Linked DNA regions of Homo sapiens. The protein of the gene in region 2 interacts with the protein of the main gene of each other region in a biochemical or structural test. Each region holds a gene or a part of one and is shown on either strand. Other genes may lie near its edges. The genes, in order: LRP1 and NTF3.

Region 1 (4,451 bases), about 52 Mb from region 2:
AAGGCAGGTGGCCACCGCGCTGAGCAAAGCCGGCTGGAAGAAGCTAAAGGTTGAGCTCACTGTCATTAGGAGGCAAGTCCTTCGTGCTGCTCCTGTTTCTGCCAAGGACAGACTGGAGTGGGGACTTTTCCGTAACTAGAACGTAAAAGGGGGAACAGTCCCTCCTCTCCAGCGTCAATTTTTGGCAGCCGACGTCGTCTGCCCCGCTCCTTGAACTCTGACATGCAGACACCTAGAAAGTCAGACACTAAGGTAACAGCCATAAAACGCCGCCCAGAAGGGGGCAGTGACCAAAAGCACGTTCACTGGCCCCTGGGAACCGCCTGGCGCCTGCCTTCTGCAAAGTATCATTCCCGTGTGGGCTGAGCCTGGGGACAAAGGTCCGGCGCTCAGCAGACACCTCCTTGGAACCCGAGGCCTGGAAACGAAGGTCCAGAGTCCCTCATCTTATTCCAAATCCTGGCGCTCGGAATCTAAAACCCTAACTTGATGGCAAGCCAGTCAGAAGGTATTAAAAAAAAAAAAAAAAAAAAAAACAGAAAAATAAATGAGCCCCGACTTCTTGGGCGAAAGGGGGTGGCCTTTCCTCAACCCCACCCGCTGGTGACTCACCTCCCTCCAAACCAGGGCCTGCCCCTCCCGCGCCTAGGGCTGGGCGAGCAGGGCGGGCGGGTACTAAGGTGGGCTCCATCCCCGAGCCCCACGCGGGCGGACAAGCTCCGGCGTGTCCCCTCGGGTGTCCCTGTTTACTCCGAGCCCGGGAGCGAGGTGGGGGCGGGTCCTCGCGGTCCCTCCCCAACCCCGCCCCCTCCTTCGCAGGCCCCAATCCCAGTCCGGTCTTCCAAAGTCTCCAAATCAAAGCTCAGCCTTTCCCTGCACCTTCCCCGCGGACTGGCGGTCCCTGTCCCCACCCCGGGCAGAGGAGGCACCTTCAGGGTTCCCCTAGAAAATCGAGCCTCGGCCCAGACCACTGAGTCCCGGACGCCCCCGGAGGGAGCCTGAAATCCTAGAGTATGACACTGAGTTTCAAAGGGGAGCCGCTCAGCTCTCCGCCCACTGCCCAATCCCACCCTCGACCCCTTCTGCTCTCTGGAGCACCAGGGAGGAGGGCCCAGCCAGGGGAGAGGGCGCCCCAGGCCCCAAACTAGCCAGCGAGTCCCCGGGACCCTCACTCTTGGACCGCTTTCCAGAACTCCGAACCCTGTCGCGGGTCCGCGTCGCCCTCCCCCGGGCAGCGCGTCAAATCGGCGCATGCGCACTCACTGGATTGCCGCGTAGCTCTTTCTCCCCCCACCCACCAACCTTTTTTCTTTCCCCGCCCCTTCCCTCCCTCCCTCCTCAACCCGTCCCCTCCCTCTCCCCCATCAGCCCCCCCCTCGGCACTTCAGTCCGGGGAACAGCGGTGCGAGCTCCAGGCCCATGCACTGAGGAGGCGGAAACAAGGGGAGCCCCCAGAGCTCCATCAAGCCCCCTCCAAAGGCTCCCCTACCCGGTCCACGCCCCCCACCCCCCCTCCCCGCCTCCTCCCAATTGTGCATTTTTGCAGCCGGAGGCGGCTCCGAGATGGGGCTGTGAGCTTCGCCCGGGGAGGGGGAAAGAGCAGCGAGGAGTGAAGCGGGGGGGTGGGGTGAAGGGTTTGGATTTCGGGGCAGGGGGCGCACCCCCGTCAGCAGGCCCTCCCCAAGGGGCTCGGAACTCTACCTCTTCACCCACGCCCCTGGTGCGCTTTGCCGAAGGAAAGAATAAGAACAGAGAAGGAGGAGGGGGAAAGGAGGAAAAGGGGGACCCCCCAACTGGGGGGGGTGAAGGAGAGAAGTAGCAGGACCAGAGGGGAAGGGGCTGCTGCTTGCATCAGCCCACACCATGCTGACCCCGCCGTTGCTCCTGCTGCTGCCCCTGCTCTCAGCTCTGGTCGCGGCGGCTATCGACGGTGAGTGAGATTCCGCGTCCCCCTTGGACCCCTGGGGGCACCCTCTCCCCAGCCCCCACTCCTGCATACGGATGGGGAAGGGAGACGCGGGAGGGGGTGCCTTTTGTTATCCCAGTCCAGCTGACACAGCAGCGGCCCGACTGGGGGCGGGGATGGGGTCCGATTTGGGGGATGGGGGCCCTGGGCAAATGATGCTTCCGGGGCCCCCCAGCACAAACAAAGACCAGAGGCCTGGGTAGAGAGAAGAGGGCTCCCCATTTTTCTGATCCTGGGGAGGAGAGGCCTTCTTTTCCTATCTCTGTTCGGGGAGGGCCTCCGCCTCCCCTACATCCTCACAACCCCCCACCCCCCATCTGAATTGTGAAGGAATCCGGATTTGCAATGTTCGGCTGCAAAAGGGGGTGGGGGTGGGGGGGGTGGCTTTTGCACTGGCCTCTGTAGCTCGAAAGGGGAGCCAGGCCAGGGGTACCCTGCCGGGCAGAGGGCAGGCAGGCCCGGGAAGGCTGTGGGTGGGGAGAGGGAGGGCCCCCTGCTTGGGCGTGGAATCGACCCCAGAGCCCCGGCTGGAGGCCTGGGTGCTGAAGTAGGCTCTTCCCCCTCTCAGGGCCTCTGTCAGTAGCCTGGGGTAGGGCTGTGTTGGGGGGCAGAGAGGGGGAGCTCGCCATACTATGTGACTTTGAATTTTCCTTCTTAATTCCTGGGAGCTTTGAGATGAAAAAACGTCAGATGTCATCACTGGGGAAGGGGACTGGAGAATGGCCTGGAATGCTGGGGTAGGAGGGTGGGGGAGGCTGCCTTCTTCCTGACTTCTGGCTTCATCACAGTTTGGATTGGAAGGAGAGTTGGAGGTTGGATGGGGATTATGGCTGTGCCCCCACACTCCTTTAGTAAATCTGTTTATTCCCTGCACCCCTCCAAGCCCAAAACCCCATACACACACACTTTGTATATTGCAGAGTTAGGCTTAGGCTAGAACTGCATCCTTTTGGGGAAATGGGGTGCCTCTCTTCCCTTTTTTTGTCAGCTGTTTTTTTCTCCTACTTGTGAGTCACTGGTTCAAGTCTTGCCCAAGCTTTAAGCATTAAGCTGGGGTCATGGGGTTGGGCTGGGCTAGGTCCCTGATTTGAGAAGGGGTGGGATCTCATCCCCTCCTGTCATCTTAGCCCTCTCATCCAAAGACAAAACTGGGCTGGATACCATCATACACCCCCTCCTCTGTCTTGCCAGATTGGGATTGGGAAAGTTTTTCTCTGAAACCAGATTATCTCCCTCCCTCTCCCTAACTTGCTTCAATTGGGGGAGGAGACTTACAGGGTCAGGAAGCAGCTGTGTCCCCAAAAAACATATTTAGTGTCCCTCAGTTGTGCCATCTTGGGGACTCTCTACCCCCCACCCCCACCCCACCAATTAGCTGCCCCGGAGGAGGAGAGGGGCTTTTCCTGAATATCCTCCAGATGCCGCACAGCCGGCTTCTGCCTATAACTCCTGTCATTATCATGTGTTTTTCTCTTGTTCTCAGCCCTGTGAGGTGAGAAGGGAAATCGAGGCAGGGAGATTGGGGTTGCAGCCGCTTCTGGGAGGAATAGAAAAAAAATTTGAGAGAGAGAGAGACCCATCAGGAGCCCCTTGAAGGAGGGTGGCTAGAGTTAGGCAGAAGCAAGAGGGTTTCTGTGGAGAGCAGGGAAGGTCAGGAAGGGACCCCAGATAGCATCACTCCCAGGGCTCTAAAGGAGTTCTATTTGCCACACCAAGTTAGTGGAAGAGAGAGACTGGACATGTTCTCCTTAACTATCTCCCTACCCTTTCTTAAAATGTTCACCCACGCCCCCTCTGTATCTCCAGCTCAGATCAAACTATCCAAAGCCCCAGGAGAGGACCCCTCCCCAAACACACACCAATATTTCTGCCTTGGGAGTGGGAATATAAATAATCAGCTCCACCCCACTCTTGGGTACAGGGTGGTGAGAAAGGGGAATTGCATAGAAATGTAAGTTCAACTCTATCCAGAGGCAGCCTAGGGGATCCCTTATCCCTAACCCCTGCCCTCTTGCCTCAGGGTCCATCAACATTGAACTTTCTTGTTTACTTTCCAGAGAATGGAGATGACCCAGCTCACCTGACTTAGTATGTTACCTTCCTCCTGCTATCACAGCCTTGCTGCTTTCTCTCCAGGGCAGCAATCCTAGGGGCTTTCCCACCTCTTCTGCTTTCTCTTCTATGCCTGAAACTGCCTCTGGGGTCCCCTGCCCTTTGGGGAGTAACGTCACTCCCCACTAGCGACAAAATTGAGTGTACCTGCTGCTGGAGAGGTTGCAGAAAGATGGGGTGGAGAATGGGACTATTGAGGGCCCTGCTGAGATTGGGGAACATTTTCTAGTGGGGAGGGCACCCCCAGACAAATACAGCTCACAGAATAAGGCTGACTTCCTCCCTCCCTTTTTCCTGACCTTCCTCCACACACCCCCTTGAGCCGGCATATTACCAGTTACTAGAGTAGGTACAGTGGAAGTGAGTTATGAAG
Region 2 (3,807 bases):
CCTGGGCTCTTGTTAGCTACTGTTTCCTCCAAAATCTCTGGCCTTGAATGTTGGAGAACCTTAAATCTTCCAACAAATCTCTGACTGAACAAACCCACAAAAAAAAATGGGGCTCAACAAATGTCTTCTCTGGAGATGTTACTAAAAAGTGAGCAATCACAACAGACCACACGAAATTTCACGTCAAAATCTGTTCTGTTTCAATGACATCACGGTCAGTCATAGGTTTGTCCTGTGAGGACAACCAAAGCTGCGGCAAGCTCTCCGTAGTTCCCAATTAATCCTATTTGAGAAGGACCATGGCACAGATGGGGACATGAACAGCAAATGCATTCTGACCATGTGGGGGTGTGTGCAACCTCTAGCCTCTCAGTATTTTTAGGTAAAACAAAAGACTGAGTTATGGAAAACTATTAACAACAACAAAAAATACTTTAACGCTCTGGGGCCATCTACATGTGTTCTCACAGGTTCTAAAATGAGTCCTCTGAAAGACTTTTTTTTTTTTTGTCCAGCCTCAATCTTGTTAGAAATCCATCCAGGCAAGAATGAGGTAATATCTACACTGGCCTCATACTTCAAGGTTCAACATGCCCATATAAAAATGATCTGAAGGAAGGTGTCCCCAACTTTTTTCTCAGGCTGTCCCACCTGTAAGAAGCAATCCAATGACAATCCAATCTGAGCCAAGCATCCAGATACCTGCCACCCATAACATAAGCTCTACAAATGCCCCATCTACCCAGGGCATCTCCTACGCTCACGTGTCCCCCAGCACGCACGCACGCACATCCTGTGCTCTCCTCTTACTCCACACATGCCTGTCCATGCACAAAGTACATCCACAGACCTTATCAGCAGCACCACACGGGGCTTAGGCTTGTCTCCAGTAGAAGATTTGGTCCTTTTCCAACAAACTCATTTTTAAATAAAACTAAATCTAAAACCCTAGCAACGGTCATTAGTTCAACATCCCCAACGCCAGAAACTGCCTGCCTCGTTAAAGAGTAAAACAGCCGCGGGTGAGGCTTGAGGCAGGGTGGTGGGCTCTAAAGATCTTCTGTGTCAGCCTGCATCCCCTCTCTCACTTCCAGGCAATGCACAGACTTGCATTCCCTCCAGTTGGGGTGGGAGTGCTGTAACTGCTCAGGAAAAGGTCTGGAGAAGCTTGTAGCAGAAGCCGCCTGCTCCGTCAGGCATCCTGAATGTAGGGAAAGAGGAGAGGCCTGAACATCTGATACATCTGGGAGTGGAAGTGAAGACATGGGAAATGTTATGTAATTAAACTCTGCTGGCCTGTCCCGCCTGGGGAATGTGAGACCCATCAGCAGTGACCTCTTCCAATCAACTTAATTGGCCCAATCTCGCCAAGAAAAGCAACAGAATTAGTTTAGTGCCTCTTGGAAATAGCTTAGCTCCTGACTATTTATGGCCACTGAACTCAAGGATGGGAGCCTGACTCTGAGCCAGGAGTTGACAGCATGTACTGACTTCTGGGAGGAATCGGAGGTTTCAGTGTGTTTCCATGCCCCTCTACGACTCCATCTTCATCTCTGGGGAAAGTGGCTGTACCCAACTTGCTGCACTGGGCACAAAGAATTTCAAAGACCCAAAGCCCAGGCTTTCCTCTTACCAGGCAGGCTAGACTTTGCTCTTCTTTTATTCAAATGGTGCCTATGTCAAGGGCAATTATTATTTTTGCTGTTCTCCACGTCACATTTCTTTTGGTGCTGTGGTCTGCATAGCTGATGTTAAAAAATAAAGAAATGTCTGTCTCTGATCATTAATAACATTGATTCTTAGACTACCTTTCCTCTGAATAGCTCAAAGATCTTAAAGATTTCCATCATCTATAATCTAGGTTTGGCTGCCTCCAGCTTCTGGATGAGTAAACTGAGGCAGTTATAAAAAGTTTTATTTACACAATGAGTGAGCAGTAGAGATGCTGTGGGCATCATGATTACTGATTAAGTTGCATTGTAAAGAGAAAGGGGTCCAGATCCTATTTTCACAATGACCTACATACGTGCTAGCACCTGTATTTAATTACATTTCATCTTTGTATGGCTGTATACAACTAAACACATCAAGTTTTGATGGGGGAAAAGAGGAGTGAACTTTCCTTCTCCTTGAGTCATTATATTGCCCCTTTACAAAAAGAGAAACAGAAGAGTTATAGAGATTAAAAATGTCCCCAAAGTCACACTTTTCCCAAGTGGTAGAACTGGACTAGAACTAAGACATTCCCAATCCAGTCTTGCACTTCACCACCCTGCTCTCAGAAATATCTGCCCCGGATCTTCTGACCAATAGTCAAGCCCTATATAAACTATCTCTTACACAGATGAGTTTCCCTCTCAAAAATAAGGTAGACCCTTAAAATGGCACAGCTGTAACTTCATGAATTCAAAAATGTCATGAGTCAAATAAAGTCCTCCCAAACATATGCCCAACGGTGGTCAGAACCTAATCAAATGGGGATCCCCATCGTCTGCTCCAGACAGGCAGATGTGTGCATCACAAAAGCACAGCCTTCACTCTGTTCCTACCCAGTTGCCTCACCAGCCATCTCAGGGTATGGACCCGATCAACGACACCTTTGTCTCATTCCCCAAAGTCTACGGCCCTTCTTTTGTGTACACCTTTTTTCGCTAAAGATGCACATCTGAGTATCCAAGACAATTTTTATCCTTCCCCAGACACACAGAATTCCTGCAAAAACACATACTGGCACCCCCTTCACAAGAGCCAGAATATCCACCCCTCCTATCCACCTCGCTAGTTTTCTCCCAGTTACGTTACTCCAGGCCAAAGTGCATGTGCACGCACCTGCATGCATACCCACCCCCCCAACACACACTCAGGTTAGCTTTACACTCGTAGCCCAGAAAACATCAAAGATGAACAAACACTCCCAGTCCATCTCTTCCTTGATCATGACTTCACCATTCTCCAGCTCCACATAACAGGTCTCATTCCAGCTATGAAGGAGGCTCTGTGTACTCTTAGAAACTCAATCCTTAGAGGGATCTGGACCTGCATTCTGACCTGAAGTGCAGCACCCTCCAATTCCCAGCCCACACCCCACACAAGAAACAACAACACCGTCCAGCTCCCTTCCCAATACACAAAAGTCTACATCATCCCTCTCTTTATGCCCCACTTTTTACAAAACCAGAGATATATTTCAAGTCAGCTTCCCTTTGGCCCCCAAGATCCATAAACATCTCTAGAAACTGAATTATAGACCTTGAAGAAACCTCAACAAGCGTCGAGCTCTGTCTATTTCTGGCAAAATTGCATCAGTTTTACTGAGCCTGGAGAAGGAATTTTTCCAGGGCAGTGTGCCATGCCCCAGTACCCAGCAATGGGCTGAGCATCCAGTAGGCACTCCATTAGCTTTAATTGATTATCAATATGAACTGGTGATAGTGAATTCTCCTATTACATAAGAAACCCATTACAAAACATTATACAACATGCATCCCTGACACCAGGCACAGATAGTGCATTCCTCTACTTACTTCAGTCTTATGCACACATCTCTTCCTGTTCCCACCCAGTGCCAATGCACAAGGACTTTTCCCCTTAAATGTACATCCCTCATTCTAAGCCTCCTCCAATTCTCTTCTCTCTGGGGAGGAAGGAGGGGGGAGGCAAACACCAACACCAACCCGGTGTCCTTCCCTGCAAATGCTTTGTCTTTCCATAAAGAGGATCTGAGCTCACACTTTTCTACCCCCTACATGCCCCAGTGCCATTCCAGCCAAATTTCCCAGTGCACCCTCATGAAGTTCAAACCCCGTG

What was found.
Region 1: the proteins of NTF3 (region 2) and LRP1 form a complex in vitro, tested with the Homo sapiens proteins (one study listed by BioGRID).

The regions. Positions count from the first base shown.
Region 1 is NC_000012.12:57,127,102-57,131,552, forward strand, and holds the start of LRP1 (prolow-density lipoprotein receptor-related protein 1 preproprotein), read left to right. Parts: upstream 1-1,381; 5' UTR 1,382-1,863; coding exon 1,864-1,930; intron 1,931-4,451. UniProt on the Homo sapiens protein: Endocytic receptor involved in endocytosis and in phagocytosis of apoptotic cells. Required for early embryonic development. Involved in cellular lipid homeostasis.
Region 2 is NC_000012.12:5,434,860-5,438,666, reverse strand, and holds part of NTF3 (neurotrophin-3 isoform 1 preproprotein), read right to left. Parts: intron 1-3,807. UniProt on the Homo sapiens protein: Seems to promote the survival of visceral and proprioceptive sensory neurons.